3 separate regions of the Homo sapiens genome follow, and regions 2 and 3 are each linked to region 1. Evidence: fine-mapped expression QTL. A gene starts in region 1. Each other region holds a variant in brackets. All regions are shown on one strand. Distances are from middle to middle.

The links. PIP is the estimated chance that this variant, and not a neighbour inherited with it, causes the effect.
Region 2: its variant is the best candidate, but not a certain one, in a credible set for the expression of MSC-AS1 in whole blood (TOPMed, PIP 0.79).
Region 3: its variant is the best candidate, but not a certain one, in a credible set for the expression of MSC-AS1 in whole blood (INTERVAL, PIP 0.58).

Annotation. Positions count from the first base shown.
Region 1 is chr8:71,841,145-71,849,060 of GRCh38, forward strand. MSC-AS1 (MSC antisense RNA 1) reads left to right here and starts at 1,979. Exons shown (of 5, transcript NR_033652.1): 1 at 1,979-2,560; 2 at 3,085-3,278. It overlaps MSC (musculin), which reads right to left and starts at 3,268. Exons shown (of 2, transcript NM_005098.4): 1 at 2,501-3,268; 2 at 416-1,603. The coding sequence starts at 3,034. The coding sequence ends at 1,517. RefSeq lists an enhancer at 61-921 and silencers at 2,617-2,886, 4,726-4,775.
Region 2 is chr8:72,006,921-72,018,197 of GRCh38, forward strand. The region is part of intron 4 of MSC-AS1 (MSC antisense RNA 1); the gene reads left to right. Among named protein-coding and RNA genes, the nearest start is that of TRPA1, 63 kb to the right of the region's middle. The variant C/G (reference allele first, on the strand shown) is at 6,233.
Region 3 is chr8:72,052,297-72,057,296 of GRCh38, forward strand. TRPA1 (transient receptor potential cation channel subfamily A member 1) reads right to left here. Exons shown (of 27, transcript NM_007332.3): 10 at 4,621-4,721; 11 at 3,390-3,559; 12 at 3,140-3,304; 13 at 1,457-1,571; 14 at 303-469. MSC-AS1 (MSC antisense RNA 1) reads left to right here. Exons shown (of 5, transcript NR_033652.1): 5 at 243-4,016. Among named protein-coding and RNA genes, the nearest start is that of TRPA1, 21 kb to the right of the region's middle. The variant A/G (reference allele first, on the strand shown) is at 2,021.

The sequences.
Region 1 (7,916 bases):
CCTTAGGGTTTTTTTTTGAACTACTTGCAATGGTAAGGATTGGAGTGTGCTTTTAGCTGGAGTAGCTGCTGTGTGTGTTGTGTGTGTGTGTGTGTGTGTGTATGAGAGACGTGCACCTATGTTAGCCTGAGGAGTGTATGTCTGTCAGGACAGCAGGGGCCTCAAGACTCAGGACTTTTATTAGGCCTCCAGTTATGGCCTTCCAGGAAGCCCGGCGCGGAGAAGCAGCAGAATCATAGAGATTAATAAAGAATGACGTTTGGAAATGGAGTGATCCAAAAGTGATCGCCACCATTCCTCCCGCAATGACCCACCGCCCTGACCAGAGGAGATCAGCCCTTAAAAGTTAACTTCTACAGCCAAACCCTCTTAGTAAAGGGCAACAAAGACCACATCCTGACACCTCCAAGGGGCACACGGTTTTTACAGCGCGTTTTATTATTCATAAAAAAATAAATTTATTTACATATGTTATTTCCTGTGGTAGTGCAGCCTCGGGGCAAGGGCGCGTTCCCTATCGCAGGATCACTTGCTATGGTAAGCCGCCCACCCTGCGCGCTCCTCCGCGCGGGGAAGAACCTGCGCGGCAGGACGTGGTGTTGGAGTTGGGGCGCCCGGAGCGTGGAGTGGGGAGACCTGATGCAGAGAGTCTGGAGTCGGAGCTGGGGGTGCTGCAGGTAGGAGCAGGAGCGGGGCGGAGAGGGAGGCCCGAAGAAGACCCCACACAGGTTGGCGCAGCGGGGCTTGGGGAGGCTTCAGCCCAGAAGTGGAGAGGGTTGACAGACGCCTGCCTGATTAGAAAAAGCCGGGAGCTTGGGAAGGAGACGGGATTGAAGAAGCCACCCGGCAGGGAGGCCGAACGGCCCAGAGCTCTCCGGGTAAAACCCGCCTGCGGTGATCTGGGAAGTGTGTCTCCACCTAGCCCTGCGAGCAGCGGCCTTCCTCCCGCCCGTTAGAAGGGCGCTGTGCTGGAGTACGAACCCGGCCCAGAGAAGCCACTCGCCCTTCTTTGTCACTTAAAACCCTGTCCCGACGCGGATCTCACGTCTAGACCTCTGTCTTTAAAGCGGATGTAGAGCGCGTTCTAACCGTTCCCTAACCATTGTGTCACCGCGAAAGGCCGGGGCTGTGTGGAACCGTCCCGCACGTGTGCGATGAATCTGGCTCCGCTGAGAACGGATCCGTGGGCTGTCTGGCGCGGGCTGGGGCAGCAGCCGAGAGTTAGTCTACAGAGCTAGGGCCCGAGGGTGGACCTGCGTCCGCGTCTCGTCACGAAAGGAAGCTCTTTTTGGAGAGGCAAAACGTGGTCGCCCAGATCCGGCGCAGCTGTAGCCGTGGGCGCTGTGCAGTGACAGCCACACCCGCCACCTGTCACGATCACAGTTCCAGGGAAAGGGGAAGGGTCAAGGAGAATCCAGCGGAAACTTCTTCCCATCTCACGAGCTCTCCCTTCTCTCCGTGGCCCCCAAACACTCGCATTTAACGAATAATCCCATCAAGTGAGTTCCAGTCCGATTTAAGCGGTGGTTCCACATAGTCTGTTGGCTGCGGAAACTTCTTTGGTGTCAGAGTCCGGTCTTCCCGAGACCACGAATGGCCATGTCTGTAAATCAAAAAGAACGTGAGATATTAGAGAGAAACGATTGTCTCAAACCGAAACAGCTCTCCTACGCGAACCCCAGATATTCCTGACTTGGAGTAGCTAAGATTTTATCAGCATTCTGGGAATTTGCATGTCCTCTCTCTGAACTAAGATTTTCATTTTACTGGAGGTTGATAATCCGAGACTTGCCATATCCGTTCACGCTTCTTCCTGGACTTTGCCCGCAGGATAATTTGGTGAAACTCATCTGACTTTGAGGTTCTGTCGTTTAGTTCCCTTCCCCAACACACACACACACACACGCACACACACACACACACACACACACACACACAGTCATCCACTCCAAGCTCCAAGTAGGAACTGGGCTTGGACAGGATTTTTCCCAAGCCGGGAGAGCTGGCAGATCAGAGAGGGACTTTCCAGATAAATCCCATCTGGGGAAACGTTACTATCTTCCACAAGCAATTTTTCTAAAAATGCAAATGCTCTTTTATAGAGCTCGGCCTTCCCTCCTTTAAGAAAGGGCTTGCCGATTCAAACCTGCCCGACTCAGCTGGATTAAGTTGGGCAAGGGAGATTTGCCGTCAGTCTGCAACCTGGTGGCAGATGGAGATGGAACCAAGATTTACCCTGGAAGTAGGATATTAGTCAATGGCTGTCACTGGGGTACAATGTTCAGAACGATGCAAACAGACACGGAGGGTTGATTCTTCTTCAGGGAAATGGCTGGCCACTCCCTTGATTTGGGAGAAACTAAACTGGCCTTCTCGTTCCCAGTCCCAGAACCTCCACCCCTTTCGAATTCTTCCCAACGGGCTGACCCTGCCCGGCGCCCAGGAGCGCCCTGGGTATCTCCTGGCTGCTCTCCCGAATCCTTGCGCGCCGCGCCCCTACCAGGTTCACTGGGTGCACGTAGCCGTTCTCATAGCGGTCCTCCTGCAACAGCTGCCGCAGGTGAGCGATGTAACTGGAAGCCAGCCGGAGCGTGTCCAGCTTGGAGAGCTTAGTGTCGGGGGGCACCCAGGGCAGGCTGGTCTTGAGCCTGGAGAAGGCTTTGCTCAGCACGCGCATCCGGGCACGCTCACGGGCGTTGGCCGCGTTCCGCTGCGACTGCTTGCACTCTGCGGCTGAGCCCTTGGCCGGGAGGGGCTTCTTGCCACCACCGCCCGCGCTACCACCTGCGCCGCCGCCCCCAGCCACACGGGGCCGCTTCCTCTTGCAGCCTTCCGCGCTGCCGGCTGTGCCCAGAGCGCAGCGCTCCTCCTCGCCGTCGGGGTCCTCCTCCTCTGCCGACGAGTTGTCACTGGGCGAGGCGTAGCTGCGCTCTACGCCGCGGAGGGGCGGCCTCTTGGAGGCGGGGACCGGGTACTCCCGCTGCAGCCCCCGAAGCTCCATCTCCTCCGGATCACTCACCGAGCCCGTGGACATCCCGTTGTCCCCCTTGCCCACACGCGTCCTCTTTCCTCCCCCCTGGCCAGTCTCGCTGTCTCCGCCTTCCGCTCCCTGGCGGAGGCGGAGGCCAGAGAGCGCTCCAAGGAAGACTAAAAACCCAGGCCGGGAAGCGCGGGGTGAGAAAGCGAGGTGGGTGGCGAGAGCGTGAGCGCCCCTCTGCTGACCCCGGGGAGCGTGGACTACGAGTTGGCGCCCAAGTCCAGAATCCGCGCGCACCGCGGTAAGCTGCGCCTTTTGAAAAGGCTATCTGTACTCCTTGGAACAAACCACCCCGGGCAAAGAAGAGGGGGTTGTAAAGGGGGCCAAGAGGTGGGGCAGGGGCGTGGAAGGGGTGGGGACCGCTTTTCTGCATGCCGAAGAGCGGTTGGTGGAGGCGGGGGAAGGGGACGTCTCTGCAGAGCCGAGATTTGGGCTCTGAAGCCCGACGGCCCTTCAACATGTCTGCGCAGGATAAGTGAGCTTTCGGGGAGTGAAGGGGCACATCTTGTTCCTACCGACGGTGCTTCTACCCCCAGGTAATCTTAGCAGTGGCAAAGATTACCAGACACTTAGAAACGACGGGATTCCGACCTCTGCTTGCCTGCCAGTCTTTCCAGTAGAACTCAGTTTTCAAGTTAACCATTCATGATGTATGATTGTCTACCCAAGCCTTGCTGGACAAGAGAAAAAGCAGAACAGGCAAACAACATCCAACAATGCACAAGTTACCTCTCATTTTCCTCCTCCTTTTCTTATAATATACCTTCATGGTTTACAAAAATGGTTACAATGGTTCGTTGCCTTTTCAAATAACATCTGTAACTTAATGATATTATCTCCAATTTGCAGAACTTGAAGCTGAGCCGCCTAGATAGACGTTAAGTAAAAGACCCAAACTTATTAGGCTAAGTAGAAAAAAAGATTCAAAATCCGCGTTTTGAAATTCTGGCCCGTCGGTATTCTAGTCAGCTCCGTGCCTCCGGGTCACACATCACTGGATGTTGTAGCTGGTATTTTCCACTATCTTGAGAGTTCCATGCGTGATGTGATTTTGTTTTAATACCACAATGCGTGTGTTGGAGGATCCGGCCCTAAAGCTTTGCATTATAATGTAGGGAATCCTTGCTATTGTATTTAATAGATTGTGTATTGAAGAGCGAGCTCCTGGAAGCAGAATGCTAAGTTAGCACAATCGTCCATTCAAAGTAAAAACGACAAAGGAGCACCCTGAATGATCATGTTCCATTCCAAACAAGACTAAAACATCCTGCTCTTCCACACAAGAAAACACAACAATTTTGCAGTCTCATTATTTCCTAACTCGAAGGTCATCGCAGTTCCTGGTCAGGGGATAAGTACGTCTGTGGATACGGGCCCCAGTGGTCAGAGACTGAGTGCCCGCTGTGTGCCCGTCACTGTACTCGCGGCTTGTGAGCAGCTCACTGAGTAATAAAACCCGTATGAGTTTGGCATATGGTTACCCCATTTTACAATGATGAAACTGAGTCGTCACACAGGCTTAGGTGTTCACTTGTTCTTTTCCTGAAAGTCCACAGGCTCCCAAGCTGAGCAAGGTGCAAGGGGACCTATGTGGAGTCAGTCCAGGACAGAGCTGGCAGAGATAGCTGGGCCAGCCTGGCTCCCGCCAGTTCGTACAGCAGAACAAATGCGTCCAGCTCGATGGCTGAAGTGCTGCAACAGGTGGCTGGCAGAGGCTGACTTCATCACTCAGGCATCATTCCACCTTAGTCTCCCAGGCCACGCTACCCTTAGCAGGGGCGTTTTGGGGCCGGGGGAATGTTTCACATAACCCCTCCGGCTCACCCACATTTGCAAAGGTTTTCTCCCTGTACAAGTTGTCTTTTGGTTGGGGGCAGGGGGTGGGCTGGTTCTGGGACAATGTGAATAAAAAGATCATTTGCCCTCAGCTCTCTCTAGGGTAGGGAAATGCAGGGAATATTTGACAGAGTGTAGAAATCTTTCCTGGAGCGTTTGAACTTGAACTTGACTCTAGGATCGCCTTGCCAGGTGAAGGAGAGGAGAGCGACAAAGAGGGGCAAAGAGATGGACCGAGGAGAGCCAGGCTAGCTCTCTGCAACGACTATTGATGACTTGAAGCTATCAGTATAAATATATAGTCTCACACATTAGGGGCAGGCGAATAGGTTTTTAAAATCTGAATTGTTTATACAGGTGCAGAACAAAGTCTTTCTTTAGAAAAGATTAATGGTGAGGAGAGCGCTAGATTTCTCTAAACAGTCACAAAAACTATACCCAGCCTCAACGCTGAGGAGGTCATGGCCAGTTTCTTTATTTCTTGAAGAAATGGTCTGACCCCACCAGTTCGGGCTTATTTTTCACAGCACTCGCCTTTCCCTCCCTGTCTTCTTTCTCTGTCTTCCCCTCCCTCCCTACTTCCCTCCCTTTCTCTTCTACTCCATCTCCTCACCCTCCCTCTGTTCGCTTTCAAGAAAGTCAGCTATTTTATTTTGTTTGTTTCATCATCTTTCATTTAACCTCCATTTCTTTCATTTTTGTGAAATTAAGTTATATTTTCACTTGTAACTCTGTTTTCAAGTTGCAGACTGGTAATGAAGGTTAGGAAATGTACCTTATATGCATTTTTTATAAGCATATAACTGCAGTTTGCTTTAACATGTTTGTAATATCTGGCATTTGGTCACCTCCTTCCACTTTCAAAGTGCTATTACTTTTTCTTCTCCTTGGATGATTACAACAGCTTCTCGAGCTGAACAGTGTAAGTATAACTCTCTCTTTTGAAAGCCCAGTGTTTTTCATGGTTTTGACAAGTGACATACTGAAATGAATAATACAGCCTTTATTTTTATCTTATAAACACACTGAAATCAATTCCTATTTGCTTATGCTTTACAAACTCTTAGATGTGAAACAGGTATAGACTGTTTGTGTGTACATCAATGGTCTTGAAATTCTTTAGTGACATTTAAAAAATATTCAATGGGGTGAGTAGGGCTTAAGTTGCATTATAAAACAAAATATTTAATAATTCTTTTAATATTACCTTTAATATTTCTTCATCCTGGCTTCCGTGCTTGCTGGATATATGACTTCTGGAATTTGCATTTTTTGAGCCCTAGTTTTCTAATCTATAAAATGGATTATCTCTCTGAGCGGAAGAGAAAGTATATGAGCAGTTGGCTAGGTCAGAGCCTGGTACATGGGAGAAGATCAGTAAATGCTAGTTAGTATTATGAATTGCCTTGCCCAATATCACACAGCTAGTAAAAGTTAGGGCAATGACCTGACCCAAGTTTTGTACTCCAGGGCCTATTCTGGGTTTCAGATAGTACCAGGGTCTTTCATTTGCTTTGACTACAGGCTGCTAGGGTCTGAAGTACATGGTCTCATCACATGACATTTTTCACAGGTCCCATGAGGGACTTCACTGAGGGAAAAATGGATGGGACGTCGTTAGAAATTTTCTTTTCGTCCCCCAAATTCTCTCACCCTAAAATTGCAGTGCTTTTCCAAGCCTTACTTTCCCTACTGGCATAAAGGATTAAGCCAGAAATCCTGCTGGTGGTGTGGTGTAGGTCAAAGGAGCATGCCCAGGTGGAACACAGATCAGTGCCTAACAGATTGAAACATTTAACAATGCAGGCTTGGTTTGTTTTTTAAAAAGGGAGCCATGAGATGGGATGATAATTACACATCATAGAAAAAAGGCCATTTGTTGCCACTTCCTTCCTCCAACAGCATATTAAGTAATGGGTGAGAAACTCTAGAACTGGGTAGGTCATGTGGACTTAGGACTCAGGAAGAGCAAAGGCTTCCTCTGTCCTCTGTGAAGGCCATGCCAAAACTATGTAGTGAGTAGGTACTTAAGAAACAGCAGTGGGACCAACCCACAGCCTCCTGTTGCCTGGAGGAATTGCCATACCTTCGGCCAATTGCCTATACTTTTGATCTAGGAAAATGAATAATCTAGATCAGCACTGGCCAATATGGAAGCCATTAGCCACATTAGGCTATTGAGCACTTGAAATGTGGCTATTCAGGTACTATAGTGTAAAATGCATAACCAGTATTGAAAACTTACTATGAATAAAAGAATATAAAAGCTCTCATTAATATTTTAAAATATAAATTTATGTCAATCTGTGAGGACATTTTGGATCTATTAGGTTAAATGAAATATATTACAAAAATTAATTTCACCATTTAAAATTATTATCATATGGTTACTAAAAATGTAGAATTAAATATACCGGTCCCATTATATTTCTATTGGACAACTCAGGGATTAATCTCATGGATTAACTATACCCCTATGGACTGAGTATCTACTGTTGGTTGTGGCAAGGTGTTGGTGAGACCCACTCTCACCCACTGGGAGGGCACATTCTTGTGGAAATAAGCTTCTCTGTATTATCCAGACTGCGTCTTACCACGTGTATTCAACCTCCTGTCTATAACACACCCCACCAGACACACACACGTGCTGGGAAAATGAACGCTCCTCCTCAGTGGTGTGTTAGTCACATGGAATGCTAGTCCCAGTGTGTGTTGGCCACGTGGCATGCTAGTCACATGGGGAGCCAGTCAGGTGGGGACAGGTCACGTGTAAGACCCAGGGTTAGGTCTGGATAACCCAAGGCCTGTCCCTTGTCTGCACAAAGCCTTGGGCTCTGCTCCAGGCTCAGGGCAGCCTCTGTCCTGGTGTTGTGCAGGATGCCACCACTCTTCAGACCAGGAAAGGAAGAAAACTCCCTTCACCCGGGCTCTACCAGCCATCAGGTTGGGCATCCATGGAAATAGTCAAAGCCTACATGTGGAGTCCTTTGTCATCCACAACACAAACAGGCCTCTGCTGCTGGTTTATTTATCTAAGGATTGC
Region 2 (11,277 bases), 170 kb after region 1:
TAAAATCTACATATTGGGTACAATGTACACTAGTCGGGTGAAGCGTGTGCTAAAATCTCAGAATTCACTACTATAATTATTCATGGAACCAAAAACCACTTGTACCTCAAAAGCTATTAAAATTTAAAAAAAGTTTTTTAAAGAAAAAATGTTTCAGTATTAAGAGCCCTTCATGTGACTAGGAATTGAGGATACCAACAACAAAATAAGTAGATAAAATAACAAATAAAAGGATTAACTGCTGTCTCTGTGTTCAAAGAGCCTACAAATAGATATACAGACACATGAAAGATCACAACACAAAGAAGTAACAGCATGAAAACTAGGTAAATTGAGTATAATAACTTTTGTATTTTGTTTGGATTATAGCTAAAACAGTGAAAAGAGGCAAGGGTAGACTTGGTGATATTTTTTATCTATCAAGACTCAGGGCAGCCCAAGTACATCCATAATGCCATTATTAATGACACTGAAGGCCTATTTCCAAATTATTATCATTCAGTGCCATCTAGTGTTAAACTGATGGATGGATTTTTTCATATTATTTTGTTTTTGTAAATTCCTTGTCCAGCTCTATGTAGTCAGATTAAAGTCAGGCAAACAAACTCTGCCTCTTACACATCTAGTCTTATGATGTGATGTCTGTATTCTGAAAACTCATGTGTTTCCTGCCCAGCCAGGCACAACCTGTGGTTCAGGCTCTCAACTCATACTTTGCTCATCTTTCCTGGACTGCCATCACTGGTGCCAGCACTCTGTCCATGGTCTTTTCCTTCAGACAGCAGAATTTCATAGGACTAGATGCATCAGTTTCTGAGCAGAAAGTTCCACTTCAGACTGGATTTTGATGCAACTCCTAGAATCTGGAGTAAATCTTTTTGTAATGTTATCTATTAGTTCAGCTATCATTGGCATGCTGGCCCTTTCTATACCAGCGCAAGGGCTGATTGTTACATTTTTGGAAATTGTGCAAGTTTCCATGTATCTTTCTTTCTTTTTCTTTTAAGAGTTAATTCTGAGGTTATCAGGGCAGGGAGAAAGCTACTAACTAGCCCCTTTTGATTAAATGTGGTGGTAGCCATGGACCAGCAGCTACTGAATTGAGCAGAGGGTCAGAGGTGAAATGGAGAGAGAGCTCTGGGAATGAATGTGTGTGCAGTAGACTTTGGAAGCCATTAGCTCACAGTCAGGTAAAGTGGCCCTCTTTAATAAAACACCCACACACACTTCAAACTTCCAAAGTTCACTCTACAGGAGGTTCTACTAGGAGGAAAGAAGGGGGTAATGGACCATGCAGTATCAAATCTGCAATTAGAGTATAATAATTACCACTATCCCTATGATGCTGGCCTTGATGGGCTCTGTTTCATCATTTAAATATTTTTAACTAAGCATGAGCAAAATCCCTTGACTCGATAACTATCACACAGCTGAAAAGGAATAACAGATTCAAAAAGAAGCTATAGGAAATTAGTGAGGAAAGAGAGAAATAAACATACAGAGTGCCATAAAACCGAATATTTGGCTTATTTTAAAAACGTGCTTGCTCTCTATGAAGTTTCAAATGTGATCCCATTCCCCATGGATTTCCAGAAAGAAAAATAAGACCTTACCTAAAATATGTCATTAACTAGTTTCTACTCTACTTCTTTAAGACTGCTCTTTCTATTTAACAGTTCACTTCTTGCAAGCCATTGTGGACAGTTGTGCCTTTCAGAGACCAGATTGGGCCAAGTCCTCTCTGTCTTTTAGCTAAAGCCCACTCTCCCAGGAAATGCTTCTGCTCTAAGACTCAAACATTCCCTGTTAGGTGAGGTCACTGACATCAGAAATGGCCTCCCCCTTTAGAGCTGGCCCTCTATACACAGGTAGTGTAATTTTGTATTTTTTCTTATTCTCTGTGGTAGAGATTGTTGGTTGACTGCCAACATCTATTGGCCCATTTCTCTAAATAACAGAATGTTTATCTGGGCACACACCTGCATGGAATTAGAATGATATTTCCCAGTGTCTCTTAAAGAAAAATGTGGCCACTTTATTAAATTCAGGTAATGGCATATAAGTAAATGATGATGTGTAGATTGCAGGAGCCTTCTTTAAGAGACAGCTGGTGTACCTCTTTTTCCTGTCCCTTCCTTTAATCCACAGCCTGGAACATGGATGCTTGCATTTTGAATCCTGAGGACAAGGACTACTTGCCTGGATAGTAGGGTGATAGGATTATGTGGAACAGAGTTGCCGTATTAGCCTATTAGTCTAGTAGGACTCACTTTTAGACTTTGTTTATAGAGATAAATAAACTTTTTGTTTGTATTATTTTTTAAAGCATAGTTATTTTGAGTTTTGCTTTTGGAGACAGATCTTTTATTGCATTCCCCTCCTTCCCCCAAAATTCTTAGGTTGAAGCATTAACCCAAGGTACTTCAGAATGTGACTTTACTTGGAAATAGGGTCATTGCAGATGTAATTATTAACAGTTAAGATGAGGTCATTAAAGTGGTCTCTAATCCAATATGACTGCTCTTCTTATAAAAAGGGGAAATTGGGGTACAAAGGCAGACACACGCACAGGGACACACACACACACACACAAACACACACACACAGAATGCTGTGTAGATGAAGGCATGGATCCAGGTGATTCCTCTATAAACAAAGAAACGGCAAAGATCGCCAGCAAATCACAAGAAGCTAGGAACGAGGTTTGGAGCAGATTCTCTCTCACAGCTCTGAGAAGGAATCAAGCCTGCTGACATCTTGGCAAGCCTCTAGAACTCTGAGACAATAAATGTCTGTTATTTATTTTCTAGCCTTAGCAAACCAATATACAATCTTAGCCAATTAAAGGCTGACTAGAATAACCTTAGCTTAATCTAGGGCAATTTTCACACCATTCAGACAGCAGAAACTACATACACATATCCATGTACCCATCTGAACTTCTGTCATAATTTCTCAGTCTATCAATTTTAGCAGTGTGGCCAAATGTCAGTTTCTCTGGAATGCCAAAATAAGGGAATTTTGTTGTGGCTGTCCTATGAAAATGAAGCTCTGTCACAGAGAAGTGTGTGAGCCAAATCCAAATACTGAGTTTATTTTACTGTCCAAATAGAATATTTTCACCCCAGTGAAGCAATTGTAAGCATCTCATCCAAAGCATATTCACTATCCTTGAGTATTCTTGGTTGCTTATTGAATGAATAAGTGAATGAGGTGGATTTGGCTGACACTAACCTTTGGGATTACCTCACAGCTTGCCAGTGGCAAGCTTAGTAAGTACTGGGCCATAGTGTTTGAGGATAGGTCTCTAGAGTCATATGTCTCTAAGTTCAAATGCTAGCCTCCTGTATTAGTCTGTTTTCATGCTGTTGATGAAGCCATACCCAAGACTGGGTAATTTACAAAATAAAGGGTTTTAATTGGACTTACAGTTCCACTTCACTGGGGAAGCCTCACAATCATGGTGGAAGGCAAGAAGGAGCAAGTCACATCTTACGTGGATGGCAGCAGACAGAAAGTATGAGAGCCAAGCAAAATGGATTTCCCCTTATGAAACCATCAGATCTTGTGAGACTTATTCACTACCATGAGAACAGTATGTGGAAAACTGCCCCCATGATTCAACTATCTCCCACTGGGTCCCTTCCACCCACAACATGTGGGGATTCAAGATGAGATGTGGGTGGGGACACAGCCAAACCATATCACCTCCTTTCCTAGTTGCTTGGTTTGGAAGAGTTATGTAATCTTTTTGAGCTTCAATTTCCTCATCTATAAAATAGGGAAGATGCTAGTTACTCTCTTATAGGGTAGTTATGATTTATTTTATGTGAAATGTTTAGAATGGTCCATGCCATGATGTACTGCAGTTGGTTTGTACTGGCTCACAATGACCAATAGTACACCTTTTTTCTGATTCTGCCAATCTTCCCATCCTCACATCCAGTGACATCATATTGGTAGTTTGAAATTAATTGGCCATGGTGAGAATATTTACACTACAGATATTTGCAAATACTATACAACAGGGGCTAGCTTGCCAGCACACCGTTGGTTAGATGACATCCGTAAGTTCTGTATAAATCTTAACATTATTATTACTCAGTAGGTACTCCTGCTCCCTTATGGTTTTGAGAAGGCCTTCTTCTAGTTAAATAAATCATTTTGAATTAAAATAACACTGATGGGACTCTTAGCAATGTTTTACCTCTTGGGAATCACTGCCTACATTTGTGGTCTATAAATCTGAATCCTTAATTCACTCGGATTGATTTTTGGCTCCGTGAAAGCAGGAGCTTTTCTCACTGCTGTAGCCCCCACACATGGCACAGGCCTGGGACAGAGTAAGCACTCATAAGTATTTGTTAAGTGAAAAAATAAATGAATGAAAGTATCCCAAACACTTGCATTTTCAAAAGGTTTTGACATCCACTTCCTTTTCTTCTCAAAGCTACGCTTTGAGATGGATAGGTCCTATTTTACCTCTATTGCATCGATGAAGAAACTGCAATGCAAAGAAGTGTCTAATTAGTCATTTGCTTCCTTTCATCAAATATGTCCATTACACCAGTGTTTCTCAAAATGTGTTCCATAGATCATAAATCCTGAAGGATGTTAATAGTTATTATGTGCCAGGGGACCCGTGGATATATAAGTTTGGAAAATAGTGAAGTAAAAAAAAAAAAAATTGGTTTACTTACTACAAGTTTTCTCAGAGCCTTATTAAGCCAATGTGCATTGTGAACACAGGAGGTAGTGGAGATAGTTAAAGTATGCAGCATTTTCTATTTTTGACTATAGTTTGCTTGATTGATTTTTTTTTTTTTTTTTTAGACAGAATCTTGCTCTGTTGCCCAGGCTGGAGTGCAGTGGTCTGATCTCAGCTCACTGCAAGCTCCGCCTCCCGGGTTGACGCCATTCTCCTGCCTCGGCCTCCTGAGTAGCTGGGACTACAGTTGCCTGCTACCACGCCCGGCTAATTTTTTGTATTTTTAGTAGAGATGAGGTTTCACCGTGTTAGCCAGGATGGTCTCGATCTCCTGATCTTGTGATCCGCCCGCCTCAGCCTCCCAAAGTGCTGGGATTACAGGCGTGAGCCACTGCGCCGGCCACTTGATTGATTTTAAATGAAGCATCCAGCAGTGTTAGTGTGAAACTTCATTAGGTAGTACTTTTCAGACCTTAACTTGCATATGAATTGCCAAGGGAACTTACTAAAATGCAAATTCTGATTTAGGAGGGAAGAGTGCCTAGGGCAGGGACCTGAGATCCTACATTTCATCTTCTTTTTTCTTCTTTTATTTGAAACAAGGTCTCACTCTGTCATCCAGGCTGAGGTTCAGTGGCATGATCACAGCTCACTGGATCCTCAAACTCCGTGGATCAGATGATCATCCCACCTCAACCTCCCAGGTAGCTGGGACTACAGGTGCATGCCACCACACCTAGCTAATTTTTTAATTTTTTTGTGGAGACGGGGTCTTGCTTTGTTGCCCAGTCTGATCTTGAACTCCTCAACTCAAGGCAATCCACCTGCTTCGGCCTCCCAAAGCTCTGGGATTACAGGCGTGAACCACCATGACTGGCCAGAGATCTTGTATGTCTAACAGGCTCTCAGAGGGTGCCCATGCTGCTGGCCCACAGGCCACACCTTGAATAGCAAGGCACTAGAACATACAAGAGTCAAGAAGAAATGGCATCTTATTGAAAGACCAAATGAGAACACTAAAACACCCTATTGACCCTCAGGACCAGCTGTTAAAGAAGCATGTTGTTCAGAGGGGTGAGGAAATAAGGGACAAACCCCCATATGATGAGCAAGTAATGAAGGAACATAGAGCTAAACTAAATAGCTGGAGTAGGGCAGGTCTTTTCAGCTGAAGTCTAGGTGGTGAATTAATTAGTGAAGGGACACAGAGATGGCTAAAGGGACCCTTGATTGCTTTGTGGACCAAAATAGCTTCATTTTTGTCATTAAAACCTAGGTTCAAGGAGAAGAGGGCAAGGCCCACTATTGGTTCAGACTTAGTTATTGTTTTCCTTCTCTATCCACAAACTCAAGTTCCATGAGTTACTAATTTTTTAAAAAACTTTTTAATTATTCAAAATGGAATATGAATGTTAGAAATTGGAAGGGAAAAATGGGGACTGACATAAAAAGAGGTTAACCTGGGTCAGGTGAGGAAGTAACGCTATACAATGTATTCAGCTATTTAAAGGCTTCAGAAATGCT[C/G]GTATCTTTTACAGACTGATCTTCCTGACTTCATCTGGTCCCTGCTTTGACCTGGAAACTTAGCTTGGGTACCTGTGTTTCTCCAGCAGTGGCTGTTCTCTGCTGGTGCCTTGTCCTAGCAGACTCTTCTCTCCTAGTTCCTTGGCAACAGTGTTCTAATAACCTTTGCGGGTCACACAGTTCCTAAGTGTGGAGCTGGGATTAGGCTAATGGAGGTGTTATAAGACTCTCCAACAATATATTCATCAATGATTCACTTCTACTAATTATAACTCGACATATTTTGGTAACTTATTGAAAGCAAAAAGGTTAATAACTCATGACTTCCTTGTAGGTCAAATCTTTGTCCGTGTAAAGCAATAATTTTGCCTAATTTTATATTTTTTCCCTTGCATTCTTTGGGTTAAGTTCATTTTGTCACTCCTGCTCTTTATATTTGTATATTTATTTGTTCATCTTTCTATAATACTAGTTTAGATTATTCTCTAGCGATTACATTTTTTTAACCCAGAAAGGAAGTATTGTGTTTTTTACTGAAGTTTAGATTGGTTGTCAGAACTCATAGATTTTATTTTACTTGTGTAGTCTTGTTCATGTTTTTGCATTTTTGTAGGTCTTGATGTTTTCTTTTACTTAATTTTTTAAGCTTTTCTTATATTGCCTGTTTTGTTTCTTTTTATCTTTTTTCCCATGTACTAATACATACTTATTTTGTTTAAATTATATTCTTGATTTCTGAACAATTAAAAAAAGAAATTATCCACCCTATATTTTTTAGTTACAAGTATGTTATGAAGCAGTATCTTTAATTTGAATAGAATTGAGTCCTTGCTAAGAAAAATGAATGAGATAAGGTATTTCATCTTCTGTTCACCACTCGTACCTGTGAAAGCCAAACAGCCTGACTTTTTATAGCTGTCAGTGATCAATACTGAAGATATAATCTGTCATTACAAAGCAGCTGGCTTGGGCTTTGAAATGTAAACAGTGATAATTTATGAACGGGTTAGTCATTTTCCCATAAACATCTGCCCATGTACCCTGTGTTGTAATACATTCATGCTATTGCGTTCCTTGTCTGTTGTAACATTCGTTGATTAGTAAATATTTATAGATGTCTCTTGTAACAAAGTTTGGCTTTGGGCATGATCAGTTAAAAATAAATTTTAAAATATCATAAAACAACTATGTAGTGCCCAAGAAGACCTTAGAAAATATTCTTTTCTTCATGTTTCTGCCCTGTGTTGTATTGGTCTTGTCTTATCTGGTAGAATTGTCATACATGTCAAATGGGGAGCCTCATTATGATGAAAAATGAAACAAAGGGTGCTTTTTTTCCATTACCCTATACCCTGAAATAGCCAAAATATACACATATGGCACCAGAAGAACAGGGAGTTTGCCTTTTTCTAGCTTGTTTTAAAAGTGCAGTGCAGACAAGCTAAATCCAGCTGGGAATTCTGTGGGTCACACGCATTAGGCGGTGCAGAATTGAAACCTCTGTCTAGAGCAGACTCTCAGAAGATTTACATGCAAGGTTAAGCTAGCATATTTTTGTTTGTGTTGCCTTAAATCTTCTCCTTTGAAGGTTATGATAGCTGCTCAGTGACTAAGTGGTTATTTTTTTAAATCAGTGATACATTCGTTGTTTAGAAGGTATCTAATACTTCTTGTCTTAATAAAAATGTTAATAACAGATGAAACTCTGTATATTAGCATATCTCAAGTGTATAATCCTAGTTTGCTATTTACCCATCTGATTTGTGTAACATTATACTGTCATTTAAAATATACTTTTAAAGCCAGATTTTACATTTCAAGTTATCTTTAGTAATAACTCTCAGTACACTCACTTGTAAATAGTTGCTATAAACTATTCACTTGTAAATAGTTGCTTTTCAGACTGTAAAAATATATTTACTCATCCCTGTAAGCTTAAATTTTGCAGCTAATTACTATTTTCTGATACTTTATGTATATATACATATATTTTTTCTTGAAAATTATTTCCAAAAATAATTATTTAAATGCAAATCATAACAATAAATGAAAACATTTAAAACACGTACTTATTTTTGTAATTGCCATTCTAAATAATTTAATCAAAATACCCCCATTCTGATTTCTTTCCCATTCATCTTTTCCAAGAAGTTAAGAACCTGAATTTTAAAAAACACTGTACCCAAGCAGCAAAACTGTGCCAAACTTGAAAGGCCGACCCCACCTTTTGGCTCTATTGACCCTAATACTTTTCCAATTAAAGAAAAACTTAACAAAAAATAGAATGCAATGACTACTTTAAGCCACTTGGCACTTTGGGGCTTTATTCTGTTTTCAAACTGGCATATGATAATTGAATTTTCTTGGGGAAAACTCAAAGCAGCAATCCAGCTTTTTCGAGATACTCCACTTGATGAATCTCCACTCCCAAAGAACATCAGTGAAGCCCTCGTGGTATTATCTTTGTTAACAAAGAGTCACCACATTTTGATGATTCTCATTCTAAGTGCTAAGACTTAAAATGGCAATATAAAACATAGCTCAAAATGTTTTAGTAGAACTTAGCTTTATCTCTTGTTGACTTTTCTTTACAGTTAAAAAATATAGAAACCACTTTAAAAGCATGCAAAAAAAAGCATGTCCCATAAGCAATTTACTTCATATTGTGAAATTAACATGTTCCATATTTCAAAGGTTTGACAAAGCTCTGTGCGTTGTCATTGACTAATTGATGGAAACTTTCAAAATCTCTGATCCTCTGGCTGGTTATTTACTGACAGTGTCCTTTATGGGCTTGTGTCTTCTGCATTTCAAGGACTCATGTGGCAGCATAGAAACAAAGGATGTTAAAAGGTACAGTCAGATCCTGCACACTGGGTGTTAAGTTTACAGTAATTTGGATGAGTGAAGGGCCATTTCATTATCTTATCAACTGAGAAGGAATGGCAGAGCTGACCACTAGACTGGGATGCTATAGAGGTTTTAGGGGCACAACTTGGTTTTATACTTGGGAATGAGACAGGAGTTCAGCAGGACTTGTTTCACAAGATACGAATCACAAAGACCTTGCTGGTAAAACAGGATGCAATAAAGAAGCCAGCCAAAATCTGCCAAAACCAAGATGGCAACAAAAGTGACTTCTGGTCATCCTCACTGCTCATTATATGCTAATTATAATACATTAGCATACTAAAGGAAGAGCCCACTGGTGTCACAACAGTTTACAAATGCCATGGTAACATCTGGAAGTTAACCTATATGGTCTTTCAGTGGGAGGAGCCCTCAGTTCTGGGAATCCCCTGCTCCTTTCTCAGGAAACTCATGAATAATCCACCCCTTATTTATCATATGATCAAGAAATAACCATAAAAATAGCCAATCAGCAGCCCTTAGGGCTGCACTGCCTATAGAGTAACCACTCTTTTATTCCTTTACTTTTTAATAAACTTGCTTTCACTTTACTCTATTGGCTTGCTCTTGAATTTTTTCCTGCAGAAAGCCAAAAACCCACGTGGCCTCCTGGGGTGAGTCCCACTTTCAGCATTTGCCCTGCGACAAGTAAAAAGACTATTTGATTTAATAAATCCTCCATCTTATTTAAATTTGGGTGATTTTAGCATATTTATAATTGGGAAAGTTTTCAAAGTGATACAGGATGGTGATAAATGCACACATGTTTACAATTCAGTATTACAGCTCTCCAAGAGTTTTCTGGTTTCTTTTACCACACTCAGAATTTGAAAGGCAACCATCTGGGTCATGAAGATGCTTGCTGATCAACTGCTGGGGTAGAAGAGACTGCTGCAGTAGAAGAGACTTTAAGTCCCTTGCTGAAGACTGCAGTCTGGCTTACTGGTTTTAGTTATTTGCACTACCTAACCTGTATCTCAAGGACTGTGGACACCATACAACATCACAGAAAACTTGATGCTTGGAGGTTTATCGGATTATGAAAGATGTTGTGTCTGCCTGTGGTATCCTGAAAGTACAGATACCTGCAGTCTTGAACCTCAACTTCTGGATTATTTCGATTATGAATTCTTTAGACAGTTTTTTTTCTTTTTCTTTTTTATTTTTGAGACAGGGACTTGCTCTGTTGTCCAGGCTGGAGTGCAGTGGTGCAATAACGGCTCACTGAAGCCTTGACCCCGCTGAGTTCAAGTGATCCTCCTATTTCAGCCTGTTGAGTAGCTGGGACTACAGGTGCCTGCCACCATGACAGGCTATTTTTAAAATTTTTGTAGATATGGGGTCTCACTGTATTGCCCAGACTGGTCTCGAACCCCAGGACTCAAGCAATCCTCCCACCGTGGTCTCCCAAAGTGTTGGGATCATAGACATGAGCCACTTCCCCTGGCCTTAGACAGTTTTGGTTCCTTCAGAATTAATGATCTGCATCTGCAAGGCATATGGATCTCCACTGATTTACAGGGGGTTTGCCATTACTGAGTTGACTTGTAGACAGAAAAACAAACTGCCTTTGTTGAGCCATTTGACTTTTCCTCATATTTTTCCCTTTTGTGAAAGACCTTAACTGAGGATCCCTGCTTTGCCTCTGGAATATGCCTGCAGTAATGTTTGTTGAGAAATCTGAGTTTGGGAGTAACTGTTCCTGTGGGGCTGTAGAAGCTGGTTGTCATTCTAATAGATTCCTGAGCCTTGATATTGCTTCAAATTAGATTGTTGCAAGTTTAGAAGGTGCAGGTGAAGTTTTCCTTTCAGGTTTTGCTGGTACTGACACAAGCACAGACATGCTGCCCATGAGTGATAATCTCCGTCTTCTTCATCCTCTTCTCCATGAATTTTTAAAACAACCTAAATTACCACTGATAACTGTCTCTTCTGAGAGTTTTCTCCCTCAATACTTATTTTTTTCAGACTTGGTTCTGGAGAGCGGATTATGTCTTATTTAAGCTATTAAGTATTTCTGATTCACATAAAAGTATAGTGTTCCTCCCTTTTCTGTGGGGGGATACGTTCCAAGACCCCTAGTGGATGCCTGAAAGCATGAATAGCACCGAACCCTATATATGTATGTGTGTGTG
Region 3 (5,000 bases), 210 kb after region 1:
CTATAGTCCCAGCTACTCAGGAGGCTGAGGCATGAGAATTGCTGAAGCCCGGGAGGCGGAGGTTGCAGTGAACAGAGATCACACCACTGCACTCCAGCCTGTGCGACAGAGCTAGACCTTTTCTAAAAATAAATAAATAAAAATAAAAAATAAAAAACCTTTAAAAAATTGATGTAAACAACTGATATTTTAAATTTTGATTAATGGCTGAAAATCATTTCTTTTCTCTTATTTTGTCTCAGACTTCAAATCATCCCAACACCAGAGAACACTAAATGACAGTGGACAGGAAGACAGTGTACCTTTTGCTCCTGATGATCGTAAGAACAACCTCCTTCCTCTTATTGTGAAGTGCAAGGTGCAAAAAGGAGGCCTGCTGCTTGTTCAGGACTATGTCAGCATTGTGGCTCAGAAGAAGCGCAACGGCTTTGGCGTGGCCTTCCCTTGCAGCAAAGTGAAGTGCAGTGTTCTTTTGAAGAAAAACAGACACAGAAAACGTGGTGACAGTGTCTAATCTGTCTTATTTCACTGCTTAACTGCTTAAAAGACATTAGCGACACTATTTAATACCAAAATACATAGCACTTAAAACTGGTGTTCAGAATCAAGCTTCAAAATAATGAGTTTATAGTTCTAGCATGGTGTGTGTGCATGTGTGGGAAGTGGATCTGTGTGTGTGTGTGTGTGTGTGTGTGTGTGAGAGATAGAGAAAGAGAGAGAGAGAGAGAGAGAGAGAGAGAGAGAGAGAATGAATTCCAAGGCATTTGTTTTGTGTTGCTTTTGCAATGGGATGATTCCACAAGGACAAAGGACAAGCTTTCAGGGTAAAGATGTTGGGTTGAACACAGAAGAAAATCCTCCTGAGATTGATCATTTGTAGAACAGTGGCTTACAGATTTGGGGCTTCACAAGCTTGTAAATGTTTTTTAAAATCAGAGACTGTTATAAGTTTGCCCATTTTTAGTTTCTCCACTTAAAGACTTTTTTTTTTTGAAAAAGGCAACAACAGTCTTCTATCCCCATCATTTTATGAACAAACGTACATTTCAAAAGTTACTCTCCCCAAAGGAAGGAAAGACATAATAGCACAATAAAGGGCAGCATTTCAAATCAATACACTTCAAAATAACACTTATCTTAATGAAAACTCACCCCTGCCTTCATTTCTCTGGACCTACCAGGGAGTAAACGCTTTACCATCAAATTTCATTGGCCTGTGGACCTCGCTGCTCTGTGAGACTGGAGGTTTCCCCAACATTCACCCACCCCTTGGTATTCTCCCAATTCTGTTGCCTTTTGATTCATACTTCACCTCAAGAATCCACTTGCTAAACACCCAACAAAAGGCTGGGAATAGAGCAAGGAAGGTAAAAGGTGTCTAGGAGAGTTTTCTGGCAATGTTGGAAGTTTCTGCTATATTGAGATTTTGGGTAAGCATGAGGACCGCAGTACATACCCCGTCTTCATCCAGGCGATCTGTGCACTTCAAATTAGTATCAAGAATGACCTTCATGGTCTGAGTGTACCCGCCCATGGACGCATGATGCAAAGCTGTCCAGCCATTGTGGTCACTGGTAAAGAGTTAAGAAAAGATGTGTGCATACACTTAACAGATGAAATGCGGGATGGGATGCCACTTGGCTTATTCTAGGTAAATCTGATGACAACAAAAAGCATTATTGAGATCTGGCAACTAAATATTTATAAAACATTTATAATAAATGAGCTAATTCCAAGCTCAATGATCTTAAATGACCTATTTCTAATGTGATTCATACACGTTTTTTACTTAGTGGTTTAAAATATGAAAGTATATAAACACATTACCAAACACTTTGGGGTAGGAGAAGTACGCTTAGCATGTCTGTGTCATACCTAATTTTTTTAAAGCTATAATGAACTGATACACATCAATTTAAATCTTGTTTTATTCTTTCAATGAACACTGTATCAAAATTTTTTTATGAAGTAATGTTAGTCTTTGTGGTCAATAGTTATTGGTAATACTACTAGTAATATG[A/G]TACATGGCTATAAGATGCTTAGCTTAGTGTCAGTTATTATTCTAAGAGTTTAAATCTAAAAAGCTTCCCTCTTGTGCTCTGAAAAATGCTTACTCAATTGCTTTGAAAAATGTTTATCCTTTTCCACAGAAATTCAAGATGTAAATACAACAAAGCCTTGTCATATTAGCTATCTTTTTTCAAATTAGACAGAAAAAAATTCTTGACACTATTTAATTTCAGTGCTAGTGAGCAGATGTTTTAGGGTGCAAGAGCCATGTTGCTATTTCAGTTATGATGTAATTAAGCAACAACTGTCTGGCCTGGGTCTACTTCGGTCCCCTTTGCAGGTCAGTTGCTTGGTGTTTCTTTGTAAACCAGAAAAAACTGAGCAAAACATTCATTCATGTAGCTGTAGCACCAATTTGCTGGCATCAATATTATGGTAAGGAAATGTGTTTTTGAACATTAGCCTAATAAGCTCTTTGCTACTGCTATGGTAAGATATCAAATGAAAAACCTCTGTAAAACATTTCCAGGTTTTTTCTTTCTTATCACAATATCATTTAATTATGCCACATATTTTATTATACTTACATATTTTAACTTTGTTTCTTGTACTTGAGTTCATTTAAGTATAATAAAATTCAGAAATTTTTACCATCTCCTGTTGTCACTTAAAGGGAACTTTTTATGCCTACCATTCATCAGATTGAATGAAAAGTAGAGTATTTGAACTTGTATGTTTTGTGTGTGTGTGTACGTGCATACACACATACACAACCACAGTTTTGTATCTATATAGGAATATGGCAGCATGATGAGGTAAAATATGAGAAACTATGTTTCAAAGAAAGGTTCTGAGAAAGACTGCACAAAGCCAATTATTCTGTGAACAGAATATTCTTGAACAAGGTTCTTCAACGCTATAAACTTCAAAGTCTTTGTCAGTTGGAAATAATACTGACTTCCCTTTCAGTATTTTTAGAAGTTACATATGTTTTGATGAAAAAATAAATTGGATAAAAGTACTTAGTGAGATATAAAGTTAGACCTCATAATTAAAAATATAATGAAAAGATAGCCTGAAAATGGCTAATTAAAGAAATTATATAAACACTCCAATCATATATCCTCACCTGAGAAACAATGCACCTTTTTTCAGAAGAAGCTGAACTACTTTATCATGTCCATTCTTTGCTGCCAGATGGAGAGGAGTCATTCCATGAAGGTCACCTTCATTCAGAAGCCTCGTATCACTTATGTCTTGTAGGAGCCTCTGACAGGTATTGATACGCCCATAACTTGGAAAAAATTAGGTTTCATATTTTCAAGGCAAATATTAAACAGAAAGAAGACATGTTCATACATTGCTAGACTGACCCTTACCTGGCTGCAAAATGCAGAGGTGATTTCTTATCTTTGCTTTTGGAATGAATGGACACATTAAAGCCAAGTAGGTTATTTACAGAACCAGGGCCCCCCTGTCTACATGCATAATGTAGAGGAGTACACCCATCGTTGTCTTCATCCATTACCAGCTCTTTGATCTGTTGCATCTATAGGAAAAAATTAATATCATACAAATAACTCTGCTATTATGCTAATATGATGGTTTTCAAACTATTCTGTAGGAAAATATTTTCCAACAAGGGTCAATATGTATTCCTTGGGGCCAAAATTGTAAATAACCTAAAGGATTTGAGAGTAATATAAATATGAATGAAGTTGAATGCTCTGTCTTCATTTAGTGTACATTACCATATTAGTGTACATTACTGTATTAAAGGATCTGAGAGATCATGCCAATAGGAAAATGTACTTAACATTTTTAACTCAGCATTTTTCAAATATATTTGATCATGGCCCTTCCCTCTGCCCCTCCTCTTATTTCCTCCCACCCCCAAATAACACCCAACAGCTTCATGTTAATATGTTCTGTTAGGTAAAATGGATGGGATGTAAACATTAGGTTTATTTTATGTTTTATATGTATAGTAAATAAAAAATGAATGATAAATGAGAAGCTTAAGCCTATCAATTAATATTTTGTTATTTTTTAAATATTCAAACACATATATATTTTGATTATTAAATACTGGCAATATTGAAATCTATTGATGATAAAAATATGATGTATTTCACATACATGTGCTAGTCACTCAGTAAGTATTAGCTGGTGAATATAAATATAAAAATAATGCTTTCAACCTCTCCTCAGAAAGTCAAGTATGCTGAGTAATTTTTCTTAATTGATGGTGGAGTATTGATAATTCATTCTTATATTTGGCTTTTCCACTGATATGCAAATCATAATGGTCAAAGAATGAAGAAAATCAAACTAATTAAGGATGTTATCTTTATCATAGATGACTGCATATTAAGTTTCTTTGTAAGTTAAAAAACTCAGTCTCACTACAATTAATTATCATTGTCATAATCATCACCACCACCACCATCACCATGTTGTAACTAAATAGTCAAATATGTCATCTTTATTTTAAAACATTTTTAAAATTCCAGAATCAGTTTATATAATAACAAAAATTATAATAAACAAAATTAGTTTATTTTCTGTTGAACCCAACTCAGTTAATGGCAATCCACAGATATACATTACCTGCATAAATTCAGGTCGCAGATTTTTTAATCCATAAGGTTGCTGTACAGTTAAATGCAGAAAATTACGTCCAAAATTATCTTTTATGTCTACTTGGGCACCTAAAAAAAAACACTATGTAAATATAAATTCTATTCATTTATTTAAAGCAATGTTTACGTGGATTTTCAACTTAGCAAAAAAAAATTTGACTAAAAATATTGTCGACCTTTAGTTTACAGGAAATTGTGTTTAGATGAGAAAACTAAACATATTTAAAATCAGGTTTAACTTACTCTCTGTGTGTGTGTGTGTCTGTATGTGTAAGTGGGGTAGAAAATATGTGATGCATTACATAAATACATGAAGCCTTACCTTTTAAAGCATAAAATGTAAGTATA